Homo sapiens: one gene and its partner. The protein of the gene in region 1 interacts with the protein of each later gene in a pairwise test. Each region holds a gene or a part of one and is shown on either strand. Other genes may lie near its edges.

The links. The genes of interacting proteins can lie anywhere in the genome.
Region 2: the proteins of RXRG (region 1) and MAP4 interact in a two-hybrid assay, tested with the Homo sapiens proteins (one study listed by BioGRID).

What each region holds. Positions count from the first base shown.
Region 1 is NC_000001.11:165,435,118-165,442,144, forward strand, and holds part of RXRG (retinoic acid receptor RXR-gamma), read right to left. Parts: intron 2,085-7,027; exon of another isoform or gene 1,814-2,084; intron 1-1,813. UniProt on the Homo sapiens protein: Receptor for retinoic acid. Retinoic acid receptors bind as heterodimers to their target response elements in response to their ligands, all-trans or 9-cis retinoic acid, and regulate gene expression in various biological processes.
Region 2 is NC_000003.12:47,852,417-47,859,443, forward strand, and holds part of MAP4 (microtubule-associated protein 4), read right to left. Parts: intron 5,097-7,027; coding exon 5,015-5,096; intron 2,945-5,014; coding exon 2,832-2,944; intron 937-2,831; coding exon 747-936; intron 642-746; coding exon of another isoform or gene 616-641; exon of another isoform or gene 523-615; coding exon 518-522; coding exon of another isoform or gene 376-517; 3' UTR 1-375. UniProt on the Homo sapiens protein: Non-neuronal microtubule-associated protein. Promotes microtubule assembly.

The sequences.
Region 1 (7,027 bases):
GTATTTGGGATTTTTGGATTAGGAATGCAAAACAAGTAAGCACATAATGTAAACATCACAAAATCAAAAGAAGATTCAAAATCTGAAATATCTTGATTCACAAGCATTTCCAATAAGGGATACTCAGCTTGGAGTGGCTAACATTTATTAGGCAACTTCTATGTGCCACGCACCCTTCCAAGGGCATGGCATGCATCATCTTGTTTAATAGTCTCAAGGGCGCTTGGAAATAAGGTACTATTAGTATCCTCATCCCCATTTTACTGACAGGAAAGTGGAGCCACAGGGAGATTGAGCAAACTGCCCAAGACCCGCTAGCTGGTAAAGAGCAGGGCCAGGATCCAAATCCAAGCAGTCTTGTGCCGGGGCCGCTGTGCTGAACTCCTGCACTGCGCTTGCCACTTGCCAGGATGGAGGGGAGATAGTGGAAGGTAAGCCCAGATAAGCCCCAAATGGGTGGATTATATGTAAGAACAACTAAGATACTCAATTCTTACCCTATGCTCTTCACAACTTACTTATGGATCATAATGCATTCTTTTCCTTTTGAACACACATAATTGCACCAAATGAACAAAATGACTAGGAGTGGGAGGCAGGGGACTGGGCCCCCAAAGGTGCTAATAAAACAAGGATTAAAATACTTTTCCAGGTGGACCTCAATTTATTTTAATATGTGAAACCCAATTTTGCATTCTGGAGTAGAGGTTGGCACACTTTTTCTTTCCAGGGTCAGACAGTAAGCATTTCAGTCTTGCTGGCTGTACCATCTCTGTGACAACTACTCACAATATCCTTTGTAGTGTGAAAGCAGCCACAATCAATGGGTAAGCTAGTGCACACAGATGTGGCTGCATTCCAATAAGCTTGCAGACCTCTAGGGGATCATTCTGGAGAAGTTTTATTATCATTACCATTTCTGATTGCTCTTCAGTTAGCAGTGATCCCCAACACCTTAGCTCCACACTGCTCTTCCTCCAGCTTTCCCCTCACAGAGCTGGATTGACTGTCAAAGCTACACAGAAGGGCCTGCAGATCATCGAGTTCAACCCCTCGGTTACAAGCAAGGACACTGGGGAAAGGAGGTATGGCTTGCCCATGACCTGTGGCTGTTTGTGGTCTTCAAACTGAGTTTCCCTGAGTCCCCTTGGAGCCACCTAGGATGGCAGGAAGGGGAGTAGAGGGGGCTGAACCACAGTGAGTCCTCCTCCCACCCTTTGGTAAAATAGCTCAATGCCACCAACCACATGGGGTAAGGGTTAACCTTCCACAGTGTGAGGGTTAAATAAAATCAAGCCTGGAAAATTGTAAACACATAATAAAAGTTAGCTCCCTTTATAGAAAATCTGGAGACTATGGCACTAAATTTAGCTAGAATTTGGTATGTACCTTTTTCTTAGAGGAGATTCGCCTGTTCTTAAAGTGTCAGACTGCACACTATGAGATGCTGACAAAGTAAATAAGACATGGATTCTGCCTCGGAGGGAGCACCATTTTCAGAAAACTACGTTTTAACAAATCATCCCAGGGCAGGCACTCATGAGGTCAGACAGAAAGGGAGCCATGACCTGGGACTTCCAACTCCTATCATTTTCAGGAGACCCTCACCCCAGGCAGTGACCTTGAGAAGTCCTGACCCCCTCCATTTCCTCAAATGCAAATGGAACAACCTGGAGTTCCTTGGCCTCTTTTATCAGCTACTGTAACCAGATGGGGACAGAAGTGGGGGACAGCAAGAGTTTCAAGGTTAAAGATCAATCCCAAACTCCTGGTGGGATTTCAGAATTAACAACCAAACTTGAAAAGTGGAAAAGCCTGTTATCATCTTTAATTCAAAAAGCATTTACAAGATGTCAGAGGAACGGGAAACAAAGCACTTAATGAATATCTTGGAGTGTTTCTTCTAGGCTGGTTGCCTGGGTTTCATTTCTGTGACTCAAAATCTCCTTTGCTCCTCCTTTTCATTTTACTGGTCACTAGTGTCATGGGGAAGCAGCCTCCTGGAGGGTTCAGGGCTCACAGTATCTGTTTTCACAGCCCTAGCGATGTGGAGAGCAGAAGTTGGAGAGCAGGGGAAGAACACCCTAGACCAAGAAGAATGCCAGTCAGTCAGTCAGCCAGCACGCCTGGCTAAGCATCTGCTTGTATATGGGCTGTGTAAGACACCAAGAGCATGAAGCCCATTCCCTGCCCTGGCAGAATGTACAAACTAGTTACAAGCTCTGATGTCTTCAAAATATTTGGAGATTAATTATTTCTGCACATTTTTCTTAGGGCTGAGTTTAAGTGAATGGATTCAAAGAATTCAGGGATTTAGAACCTGAGAACAGATAATGTTCTGAATATTACCCAATGGTAACATGGGACTAGGAATATAGTTCGCTGTATTTTAAGAGACTGCCGTCTTTAGAAGACAATCTATAGAGATTGCCCTGTTCAGATAGAGAGAGCCTATCTGAACAAGAAATCCAGAGACAGTAATGGACAGAGGTCATGGATTCAAGAGCTGGGTGTGCACATAATTGATGTTCAAGGACTTTAGGAACGAGAGGAGAACTGGGGGCACCCTCATTGGCATCTGCTTCAAACACTCATTGACATCTGCCTCCATGGACTAACTGGTACATGATGTACCAGTATACGGAATTGGCTTAAAGGGACAGCCAGCCGGTCCTCGTTAGCAGGATCCCCTGGAGCCTCTCATTTGTTAGAGATGGCATAATATCCATCTGTACTAGCAAGGTCTATAATTTGGTGCTGGCTGGGAAAGGTGGTGTGCAAGCAAAATGTCATTCATTATATGCAGAAATGTTCACAGAAATTCTGCTAGACTAGACTCAAATTCTAGATCTATAATAATTTGCAGCAGGCCTTAAAAGGGCCACTTTATCACTCTAAACCTCAGTTTCCTAATCTGTCTAATGGGAATAATTTCCGCCTTACGGACTACACTGTCAGTTTGAAGTTTGAATGAAATAGACGGTGGCCTCCAGGAGGGGCCCCTCTATCTGTTGTGCTGAGATTGACTCAGCCCTGGCTCAGCGATCCTCAGAAAAAAAGTGAAAATACAGGTTGAGTATCCCTAATCCAAGCCTCTAAAATCTGAAATGCTTCAAAATCCAGAACTTTTTGAATGCCAATATCATGCTCAAAGGAAATGCTAATTGGAGCATTTTGGATTTCAGATTTTTGGATTATAGATGCTCAATTGGTAAGTATAAGGCAAATATTCCAAAATAAAAAAAAAATCCCAAATCCAAAACACTTCTGGTGTTAAGCATTTTGGATAAGGGATACTTAACTTGCATCAACTCATTTCATAACTACAACACCACTTTAAGGTCCGTAGTTTTATTATCCCCATTATATGGGGATTAAGCACACGGCTTGGCACAGAATAGACACTCACCAAATATTTTTTGACAGATAACCCAATGATTGGTATGGAAATAAATAGCACATATTCATAAAGAGTTTTAGGAATGTAAGGCATTATCTAGCAGACGGAATAAACTTGGACCCAGGGGCCAGAAGACCTGCTGTTTTTGCCTATATGGCCTTGGGCAAGTCTCTCAACCTCTCTTCTATAAAATGAGGTGGTTCTTCAAGTTCTAAAAGTCTGATTTCTAAACAAAAACAACCAACATGGTCTTATTAATTTACAACATAATTAATTCAGAGTGGTGACTAAACTGGTCATGGTATAAACTAGTTTGTATTTGTTCATTCACAAAATAATAATAAAAAAGGTTTGTTAAGCAAATAAGATGGTAGAAATGTTAAGCCTATTTAAGATACATATGTTTTCAAGCAATTTAAAAAGCATAGAAGGAGCACATTGGCATATTAACGGGGTGTTAATTACAAAAGAATCTTTTAAAGCAGGTTTTCTAAAATCCCCACTGAGTAACCATTAGCTTGTGGTACTTGAAACACAAACTGTTCACATGTGTTACTTAGAAGTAATAAAATTGTAATTTAAAAGTAATCTGCCAACTTGTCACGAATTTAGACTGATTTTTCTCTCAATTGATCCAAATGAGTGAGGTTTTGCTATAATTATATATAATGCTGGTAATAATGAGGCTGATTATCAATCTTTCCCTGCTTTTCACTACCTCCATCATTACAGATTTTAGGGGAGGGGGGCGGGGGTGGAGGAAGATGGGAGGAGTGGGAGCGAGGGGAGGAGGGGGGTGGAGGAGAGGGAGAGAGGCAGGGATGCCACTCTCTCCCTCCCCCTTCCTTCAAGCACCGGAAGCAACCCCAGCTCCCACCCTGAGCAGCTCATCAGCCCTTCTCTGGGGGCTACATGAATCCAGGTGGAACTGCCCTGTGCGGCTTCGAAAGGCTAGCCAGCTGGTCCGAACTGGGGTTGCGTGAAGCATGCAGCAGCGTCAACCCATCAGCTAATGCATGCTTTCATTCTCACATTCCCACTGAGAGGCTGAGAGGCCTGAGCCTCTGGGGGCAGAAGGAGGGCCTCTTCTACATGCTCTCCACTCTCCAACACATTCCTTGATTTTTCCCCACTGAGGAAGCCAGAAAGGGCTTCCATAGCAGAGAAGGTTTCCTTCCCATCAGAAGAAAGCTTCTCTCTGCTCCCCATTCACTGGAAATTTAATGTCTAACATCTTGTTTTCTACATCGGTTAAAATGTAAAGCTTTGCACCAGTAAAACAGTTATAAAATACCTTCCCATTCCATCTCAGGGTGATTGTGCAGCCTAAATGTTTATAGGAAAGTCCCCTTGAATATGCTGATAATAATTCAAATATAAGAAATGCATATTAGCTAATCCCTGGTGTCTGAGTGGCTGTTATGTGGAAAGAGGAGGGAGAAGAAGATTAGGCTGGGCTGGGAGCCCTGAGGAAGGGAACCCAAACTAGGGGTTGAATTGTGAAGAGATAGAGTCAAGATGTGGAGTGTTCTAGTGAGAAAGGCCAGGGTCAAAATCCTGGGAGAGGCCAAGTATTGAATTGGGAAGGGGCAGGAAGGTCTGTGCTGGGTAACTGCTGTAAGAATTTACAGAGTAGTACAGTATAGTACATGGTAGAGCTGGGATTAAAATCCAGATCTGCTGCTTTTCCTCATATTCAAATGCCACTTTTATCATTTATTAGCCAAGTTCCCTTTGGCAAATTATTAATTTCTCTGTCCCCCAGTTTTTACATCTGTATAATGGGGGTAATAAAACTACCGACCTTAAAGTGGTGTTTTAGTTATGAAACGAGTTGATACAGGTTAAGTATCTCTTATCCAAAATGCTTAGCACCAGAAGTGTTTTGGATTTAGGATTTTTTTTTATTTTGGAATATTTGCATTATACTTACCAATTGAGCATCTATAATCCAGAAATCTGAAATCCAAAATGCTCCAACGAGCATTTCCTTTGAGCATCATTTTGGCATTCAAAAAGTTCTGGATTTTGAAGCATTTCAGATTTTAGATGCTTGGATTAGGGATACTCAACCTGTATTTTCACTTTTTTCTGAGGATCACTGAGCCAGGGCTGAGTCAATCTCATGAGAGCCACCAAAGCCCATGCATTCTAGAAAATTAACTTCATTCCCTGGGCCTCTGTGTCTTCTACTTTTAAAAAGAGGAGAAAACACCAGCTTCCTCTGGGAGCCCCTGGCACACCCGCGATCCAATGCTGGTGGCTAAGTTCTCTGCAGACCTAGAAGCTTCATAATGAGGGGAAGGAAGAGGTGGGGCATTTAGATTCTCTTTGCACAATTTCTTCCCCCAGTTGCTATTCAGCTCTCTATCTCTTGGTGAGATTGTAAATGTTTTAGAAAATAGTTTATACGAAATATGTTCCTTCCTAAATCTCATAAACAGTTACTCCTTTCCACATAAACCTTAACCACTTATGCCCATGATAGGTTCCAATTAGCCACCCACATATCTGTGGAGGGGAAAAATATGTTCTAGCATATACACACATGTGCACACGCACACATACAAGCAGGTCCAACTCAACCCCTTCTCTATGGCTATTTTCAAGTGAAAGCAACTATTCTACATGAATGGTCAGGGTCAGTTGGACAGGACTCTTGCAAATAAGTATGTACCCAAGGGAAGCCACCAATTAATTCTGCAGAGATCACCGTTGCTCTTAACCTATCCCATGGCTTATTCCTCAATGGCCAGTCCACTGGGTCTGCAACAACCAGTCAGTGCTGAGGCTGCATATCTGAGGTTGTATTGGAGCACCGGGAGCTCCCTGGGGGTGTGCTGCTGCCCCTGGCTTTGCAGAGCAACTGTGTCACTCACAGAAGCTGTGAGAGGCAGCTCAGCAGTGTGAACTCTGGGAGCTAGTCTGCCTGGGTTCAATCCCTGGCTGTGCCATTTTCTAGCTATAAGACCTTAAGCAAGTTATTTCACCTCTCAATTCCTCTGTTTCTTTGTCTCTAAAAGGAGTACGAGAACAATGGTAACAGTACCTACTCCTAGGGTTGTTATGAGGATTACATGAGCCGAGGCTGGTAAAGTGCTTACAATAGTAGCGAGCATTAGTGTTACAGTGTGTTTGTTAAATGAAATGAGAGAAGTCCTCTCTCTCCCTGATCTCCTTCTCACCCTGAGGATTACTGCACAATTGGATGGGGGGGATTACAGGCTTTGTTTTGCCATCTTCTAAGAGGCAGCAACTGTCTCATCCCAGAAAAACAAACCTATTACTGAGCAGCTGGCAAACCCTGGACTTGGCAGAGAAGGAGAAGAGAAGGTTTCTCTCATCATTACATGGTAGGGCCCAAAGCTGGGAGATTGGGCACCTTTGTGGAGCCACCACGTAGCCACCACACTTTGGCCAGTTTGAGCAATCTGTTGCTCACTGATCAGATGATGCTCTGACATCTGGTAAGCATGGTCCCAGACACAAATCTCAGGTGTTATTTCCAAAAGGTGACTTTGCTTCCCTGGAGATTCTTATACAAATCATGGGGCCCTCTGTAATTCCATGTGCTAATATGTAACAGGGCAGGGGGTTATACACCAAGTATTTTAATAAGTGCCGTGC
Region 2 (7,027 bases), on another chromosome or scaffold:
AGTGGCTTAAGCTCCACGGTCAGCGTCCTGTCACCACTCGGAATCCACCTCCACTCTTCCCTCCAGGTAGATCCAGGGAGAAGGGAGGGCATGTCAGTTTCTTTTGGGTTTGGACCAAAGAACCAAAAAAAGATGAGGATAGAATCTGGTTCTCCTCTCCTAGATCCCAACTTAGCCTCAACCACCCCAACCCCCTCCCAACCTCCTCCACGGAGCAGTGGCGCAGTGATGGGGCAAGACCAAAGCAGGGAGATGGGCCCAGGCTGGGGAGTGAGAGGAGGTGTGGGGCAGGGCTGCTGCTGCCCCGGGCACGCAAAGCAGGAGGGAAGGCGAGCCTAGCGGGCTGCCCAGCACGGCGCCCAAGCGCTCACTGGTCTAGTGGACAGCCCGGGAAAGGGGGCCAAGGACCCGGGAGCCCGAGTTGGGGCCGCCAGGGAAGTGTGGGGGGCGGGAGACAATGTCGGCCCCGTGGTCGGTGCGGGCCCTGGCATTTGCCCGGAACGTCAGCCTGTAGGTCTCAATCTGCAGTGACATGGGAGGAGGGAAGGGAGAGGGGAACAGGGGAGACAAGAGGGGAACACGGGGGAGACGGAAGACGAGACCAGAATGTCATCATTAGATGCCTGGAAAATAAAAGGTTACTTCATTAAAATTTAGGCCACACTCTAGTCAAAAACAAAGGAGTTTCAATTTGCGGCCAGTGGCAGGGCCCCTGGCTGGCCCTTAGGCCGAGCCCAGCCACTTACTTGTCTCCTGGATCTGGCTGTCCAAGGTCTGGGCCTCCCTTTGGTCACCACCCCCTGACAGGGTGGGGTGGCCATTGAGGCCACTGGCTGAAGTGGGGGCGCCAGCTTCAGGCGCTGCCTCAGAGATGGCCGGCTCCTCCCCAGCAGGGGGACCCGGACACAGAGGAGCCTCGCTGCCACCGCCCTCAGTCTACAATGAAACAGTGGGGGAGACAGTGCAGGGTCAGTCGAGGGGGGGAGTGGGATGGGGTGATGGTGGTGGGTTTCACACACAGCCCCCACCCTTGCTGCCCTGGCACCCACTGGCTCAAGGCACAGTCGCTTGGAGAATCCCAGGCAGGTGCCCCGGCCCCACCCACCCCACCTCACCTGGGAGACCGACTCCCGAGGGTCAGGAGCAGCTGGACCAGTGACACACTCTCAGAGCCCCTCTGTGGCATGTGAGGCTCTGATGAAGCCTCTCTGAGGGCAGAGGTGCCAGGCCTCAGGCTGGTACCAAAGACGTAGCCATGACAACAGTAAGCAATAAGCCTGAAGGGTAGCCCCCTGAAGGGTACAGCCCACCCTCCCAAACCCTCCCTGAACCCAGGCCACCCCCTGCACACAGAGTGGGGTCCTCAGTAGCTCCCGGGCAGCCCTGCCTGCACATCTGTCTGGTCAGGAACACAGGTGCTGAGGCCTTGTCTGTGCGGGGCACCATTCTGGGACCAGGGGTCCATGGGAGGCAGAAAGGTGTCCAAGGAGGTATAACCCAGGGACACTGTGGAGGCCTGGAGGGCGTCATAGGAGGAGGACATTTGGGGGACATGGAACACTCAGTGTGAGGAAGGCAGAGAAGAGAGAACAGCTGCGAGAGGCCACTGGGGAGCTGGAAAGCGTGTGTCGCCAAATACCCAAAAAGTGACAAGGGAGAAGTGGTTTCTAATCGGCATAGTGAGAAATAGGCCTCGATTAAAAACAATAATTCCAGAACTAATAAAGGGATATAATGTGAACAAGGAAAAGAACACAAGGCTTAGGGTCAGAAAAGCCCAGATGTGAATCCTGGTCCACGCTCGCTCGCTGTGTCCTTGGAAAAGAGACTAAAGCCAAGTTAACGCCCCACTGAGACGGGCGTGAGAACGGCATCCTCACGAGGTATGGGGGGCACGAACTGAGAGCCTGTGGCAGCAAGGACCCCCCCAGATGTTCCTGGAAGCTGATCAAGGCTTCAGTCAGAGCATCAGGAGAGGATGGGACAGGGGACGGGCTGGGCAGTGGCTGGCACTGGGGAGCAGAGATGGAAGGGAAGGCCCAGGGCAGCGGCTCCTGGCCCCTCTCCCCTGCGCACCTGAACCCGAGCAGCAGCAGCCATCCTTGTGCTCGGGGTCTGCAAGATGCCCCTCATGGGCCCCCCACCCACGGATGACATGGAACATAGGACAGACAGCATCTTGGCACACAAAAGGTCTCACAGTACTGTGGAAGGAGGAAGGGAGGAAAGAGGAGAGAGGGAAGGGAGAAGAGGCCCAGCCAGTCGTGAGGATGGGAACCTCTGCCACTTGAGCTCTGTCCCAGAGCCCTGCAGAGGGAGGCCCCAGGCAGGCCCTGCAGAGGGAGGCCCCAGGCAGGCCCTGCAGAGGGAGGCCCCAGGCAGCCTGCTGTCGCTGGCAGCTAAGAATGTGCTGTCCTGCTCCTAACCCAGGAGCGGAGCCTGACATGGGGCGGGAACCCACATTCCCCTTGGCGCGAGACAGCTGGGGAGAACTGTGTGGTGCAGAACCCCCGCTCGCCTGGGGGTGGTCTGTGTCCCAGTCCGTGGCCTTCTCAAATGGCTGGATGGGCTCAATTAGGAAGGCCATGGCTCTCAGGAGCAAGGTTCTGCCTCCAGCTGACAGGTGAGGGGTGGCTGGGCTGGGGCCTCTTCACTTCTGCCTCAGTCAGGACTGATGATACACGGTGGGAAAACGGCAATGGTGTGGGTGAAGACATGACTCCTGAAGAGACTGAGGGGCGGTGACAGGTGCCTACCTGTGAGGACCCTGACCCTAACTGCATAGTTCCCACCCCTCCCCAGCTGTGTCTCCCCAGTGACCCACTCGCTACCTTCACAGCACCTCCTGCAGGTAGGTGGCCCACATTATCGAGGGATCCCACCTTGGCCTGGGCCTTCTCCTTGAAGTTCAACTTCTGACTTTCAATCTTGACATCTCCTCCACCTGGAACCACAAAGGAACTGGTCACCTAGGGTGGCAGAGGAATATCCCTGCAGGCAAAACCAGGACTAGCGATATGCCCAATCTAGAAATGAGACAGACGTGACCTGTTCTGGGTGGCAAATGAAGAACAGTGAACACGTTTGTCTAAAGAGGACTTCTCATATCACAGTGAGGCTGAGACAATCTCTCCGTCCAGCCAGTGGGAATACCTCCAAGAAAAGGAAAGCCATCCCTTCCACCACCCCATGCCACAGCCACTGAGCTGCAGGCCAGGCTTGGGCAGGCCTGGGGCTCCGAGCACAGCCTCCAGGGCGAAGCCTCTGCTTCTCTACTCTGTGTGGGAATGCCCTCCCGCTAACTGGGCCATGCAGTGCTTCTCAGGCACAGCCTCACTGAATTCTCATGAATGCCCTGTCATCACGGCCACGGTCCCTGCTTCCCAGCCGGTAAAACTGATGCTGCAAAAGAGAAGGGACTCACCCAGAGTTACCACCAATCTGCTGATTGACAGTGACAGGTTGTGAAAATTGTCTGAGACCCTAAACCGTACCACACTCTAGCAAAAAGAAGGAATAATAAAAAGGACAGAGTGGCCCCGAGGCTGTGCGCTGAGGAAGGAAAGACATGGACCAAGGCAGGCCTGGGATCTAGTGACCTCAGGCTAGGACGGGGAGGGAAAGTGGTCTGAACTCACGCCCAGGGTTCAGAGCTCACTGGCCAGAGTGTGCCCATGAGACCAAGGGGAAGGGTGCGGGACGAGCTGCCCTCAATGAGTACCCAGCCCCTCCCGCGCCCAGCAGCGTGGTTTCCCTTGGGCCCCTTCTCCTGTTCTTCCATCTCCTCTCAGCTCACATGGCAGACCTCCACGCACAGCTTCTGGCCGAGGTCTCCCGGTGTCCCATATTGGGAAACCCAGCCCTGGCAAAAACTAGACCCTAAGTGACTCAGTGTCATTAGAGAAGGAAGTATCTGATAGGAGATTTCCCAGATAAAAGGGGAAAAAAATGGTTAGTTAAGGACAGAACTGTTTTGATCTTTCTAAATAGAACACATTCTAAACTGGATCATGCTCTTCGCTGAGAGGGAAAGGGAGTTTTTTTTTTTTCTTTTTGGAGACAGAATTTCGCTCTGTTGCTCAGGCTGGAGTGCAGTGCCATACTCTCGCCTCACTGTAGTCTCTGCCTCCTGGGTTCAAGCAATTCTCCAAAGGCATGCACCACCACACCTAGCTAGTTTTTGTATTTTTAGTAGAGACAGGGTTTCACCATGTTGGCCAGGCTGTTCTCAAACTCCTGACCTCAAGTGATCCGCCCGCTTTGGCCTCCCAAAGTGCTGGGATTACAGGCATGAGACACCGCGCCCGCCCTGAGGGAAGAGAGTTTTGCCTTCACCTTATCTGGCCTGTGGTGGCTAGCCTTCTGGGATACCAGGTCTGCCAGCCAGTGTGCCTGCTGCTACAGCAGTCCTACTCACAAATCTGCTGTAGACCCAGGAACTAGGACACGAGGCTGCTAGGGGACTACCCAAGGCAAGAGCCCAGCCTCCGCACAGCGACTTCCACAGGGGCGCTGGGCCAACCATGTTGCTGGAAGGAAACTGCATTAGTGCAAGTTGCTGAACGCCTCCCATTCTCCTGCCAGGGCTAGCGGCTGATGCTTCACTGGTTGGGAGCACCCTTTGCTCCTGCATCTGATAGGTGGGACCTGAACACTGCCCTCTATACAGCTCCTTCAGCAGTAGCTTCTGTAATCCTCGTTTAGAGCCAATCCAGGTTCTCAGCTCAGAGTGCACCACTTCCCCAGGCCTAGCTCAATAGTTCCACACACACAGTAGGTACTCAAGAGAATGCCTGTGCAGATGGCTGCTGTAAGAAACTGCTCCTCCTCCACTTAGAGGTTAGCACCCGAACTCCTGCTCCCTGACAGAATGAGGACTGTGGTGTCCTGGGTAGTCTTCATGGGATGCTAAAGGCACAGAGATGAAACCCTTGCCAGCCAGCTGGCTGCCCAGCTGACCCATGGCAGGACGACATACCCTGGAGACCCAGTGGGCAAGGGAGGCACCACTCACCAGGCTTGTGCTTGATGTTAGCCTTAGACCCACACTTGGAGGAGACCTTAGAGATGTCCACTTTCTTGTTCTGAATCTGAACCTGAAGAGAAGGACACAAAAGACTCATTCAGAGAGAAGGTATACTGTCAGAGCCAACCCCATGCTACCTTTTAAATCTTCTCCATGTTCAGGGTTTCTCGCTCCCTCTGTAAGCTGCTATCTCAGTCTGGTCAAAGACAAGGTCATCTCCCTAAGTACTTAAAAGAGCCCTCGACCCACCCTGGCCCTGCTCTTCACTTCCTTTTTTTTTTTTAAAGATGGAGTCTCGCTCTGTTGCCCAGGCTGGAGTACAGTGGTACGATCTCAGCTCGCTATAACCTCCGCCTCCTGGGGTCAAGCAATTCTCCTGCCTCAGCCTCCCGAGTAGCTGGGATTACAGGCGTGTACCACCACATCTGGCTAATTTTTTGTATTTTTAGTAGAGACAAGGTTTCACCATGTTGGCCAGGCTGGTCTCGAACTCCTGACCTCAGGAGATCCACCCACCTCAGATTTCCAGAGCCCAGAGTGTTGGGATTACAGGCGTGAGCCACCACGCCTGGCCTTCACTTTTTTTTTTTTTTTTTTTAAGACAGAGTTTCACTCTTGTTGCCCAGGCTGGCACGATCTTGGCTCACCCCAGCCTCCATCTCCCGGGTTCAAGTGATTCTTCTGCCTCAGCCTCTGGAGTAGCTAGGATTACAGGCATGCGCCACCACGCCCAGCTAATTTTGTATTTTTAGTAGAGACAGGGTTTCTCCATATTGGTCAGGCTGGTCTCGAACTCCTGACCTCAGGTGATCCGCCTGCCTCAGGATCCCAAAGTGCTGGAATTACAGGTGTGAGCCACCACGCCCGGCCACCAGCCTTCACTTCTAACCCCACCTCCAGCCAGACCAAACCACCATTTCCACACCCCACAGGTCTTTCTGTGCAGACCCTGTCCATGCATGCTCCAGACAGCTCTTCTGTCATTTCACCAGGTCCAAACACCAGCACCAAGGCTCCCATGAAATATCCCCTTTATTCCATCTCAAATCCTTACCTATCAACTCCTTGCCCAGAGAACCTGGAATAACATATTTACTTCTAGTCCTTTTCAATGCATTTTCCCCTTGGGAGAGGTGAGGGGGTGGTGTGTGTGTGTGTGTGTGTGTGTGTGTGCGCGTTGTGTGTGTGTGTGTGTGTGTGTGTAATCATAGTATTCCTGCTTAATCCATGTTATAACAATTTTCCCAGCCAGGTGCAGTGGGTCATGCCTGTAATCCCAGCACTTTGGGAGGCTGAGGCAGGCAGATCACCTGTGGCTAGGAGTTTGAGACCAGCCTGGCCAGCACAGTGAAACTCTATCTCTACTAAAAATGCAAAAATTTGCATTTAAAGGTGGTGCACCTTGGCTGGGCACGGTGGCTCACGCCTGTAATCCCAGCACTTTGGGAGGCTAAGGCGGGCGGATCACGAGGTCAGGAGATCGAGACCATCCTGGCTAACATGGTGAAACCCCGTCTCTACTAAAAATACAAAAAAAATTAGCCGGGCGTGGTGGCAGGTGCCTGTAGTCCCAGTACTCGGGAGGCTGAGGCAGGAGAATGGCATGAACTCGGGAGGCAGAGCTTGCAGTGAGCCGAGATCGTGCCACTGCACTCCAGCCTGGGCAACAGAAAGAGACTCCGCCTCAAAAAAAAAAGGTGGTGCATCTTTAAGTCTATAGCCATGCATGCCCTCTGGGTTGCTGGATGGGGATTCCAGCATTCCTGTGAGCGGCCCCGCTGTCCTCTGGTAGGTACTGTGGGAGAGCCTGACTTTCCAACACATCAACTCCATGCAGTGTTGCACCATTCTGGTGGGTTTCACCACAAGCTGTTAAATGGTGAGCTACCTTCTTGAGCCCTGTTTTCCCTTCTTTGGTGTCAGGAAATATAGTCTTCACCATGTTTCCAGAGGACAGATATAATGCCACCAGTATTTTTGTATTTGCACCCACAGCCCAAG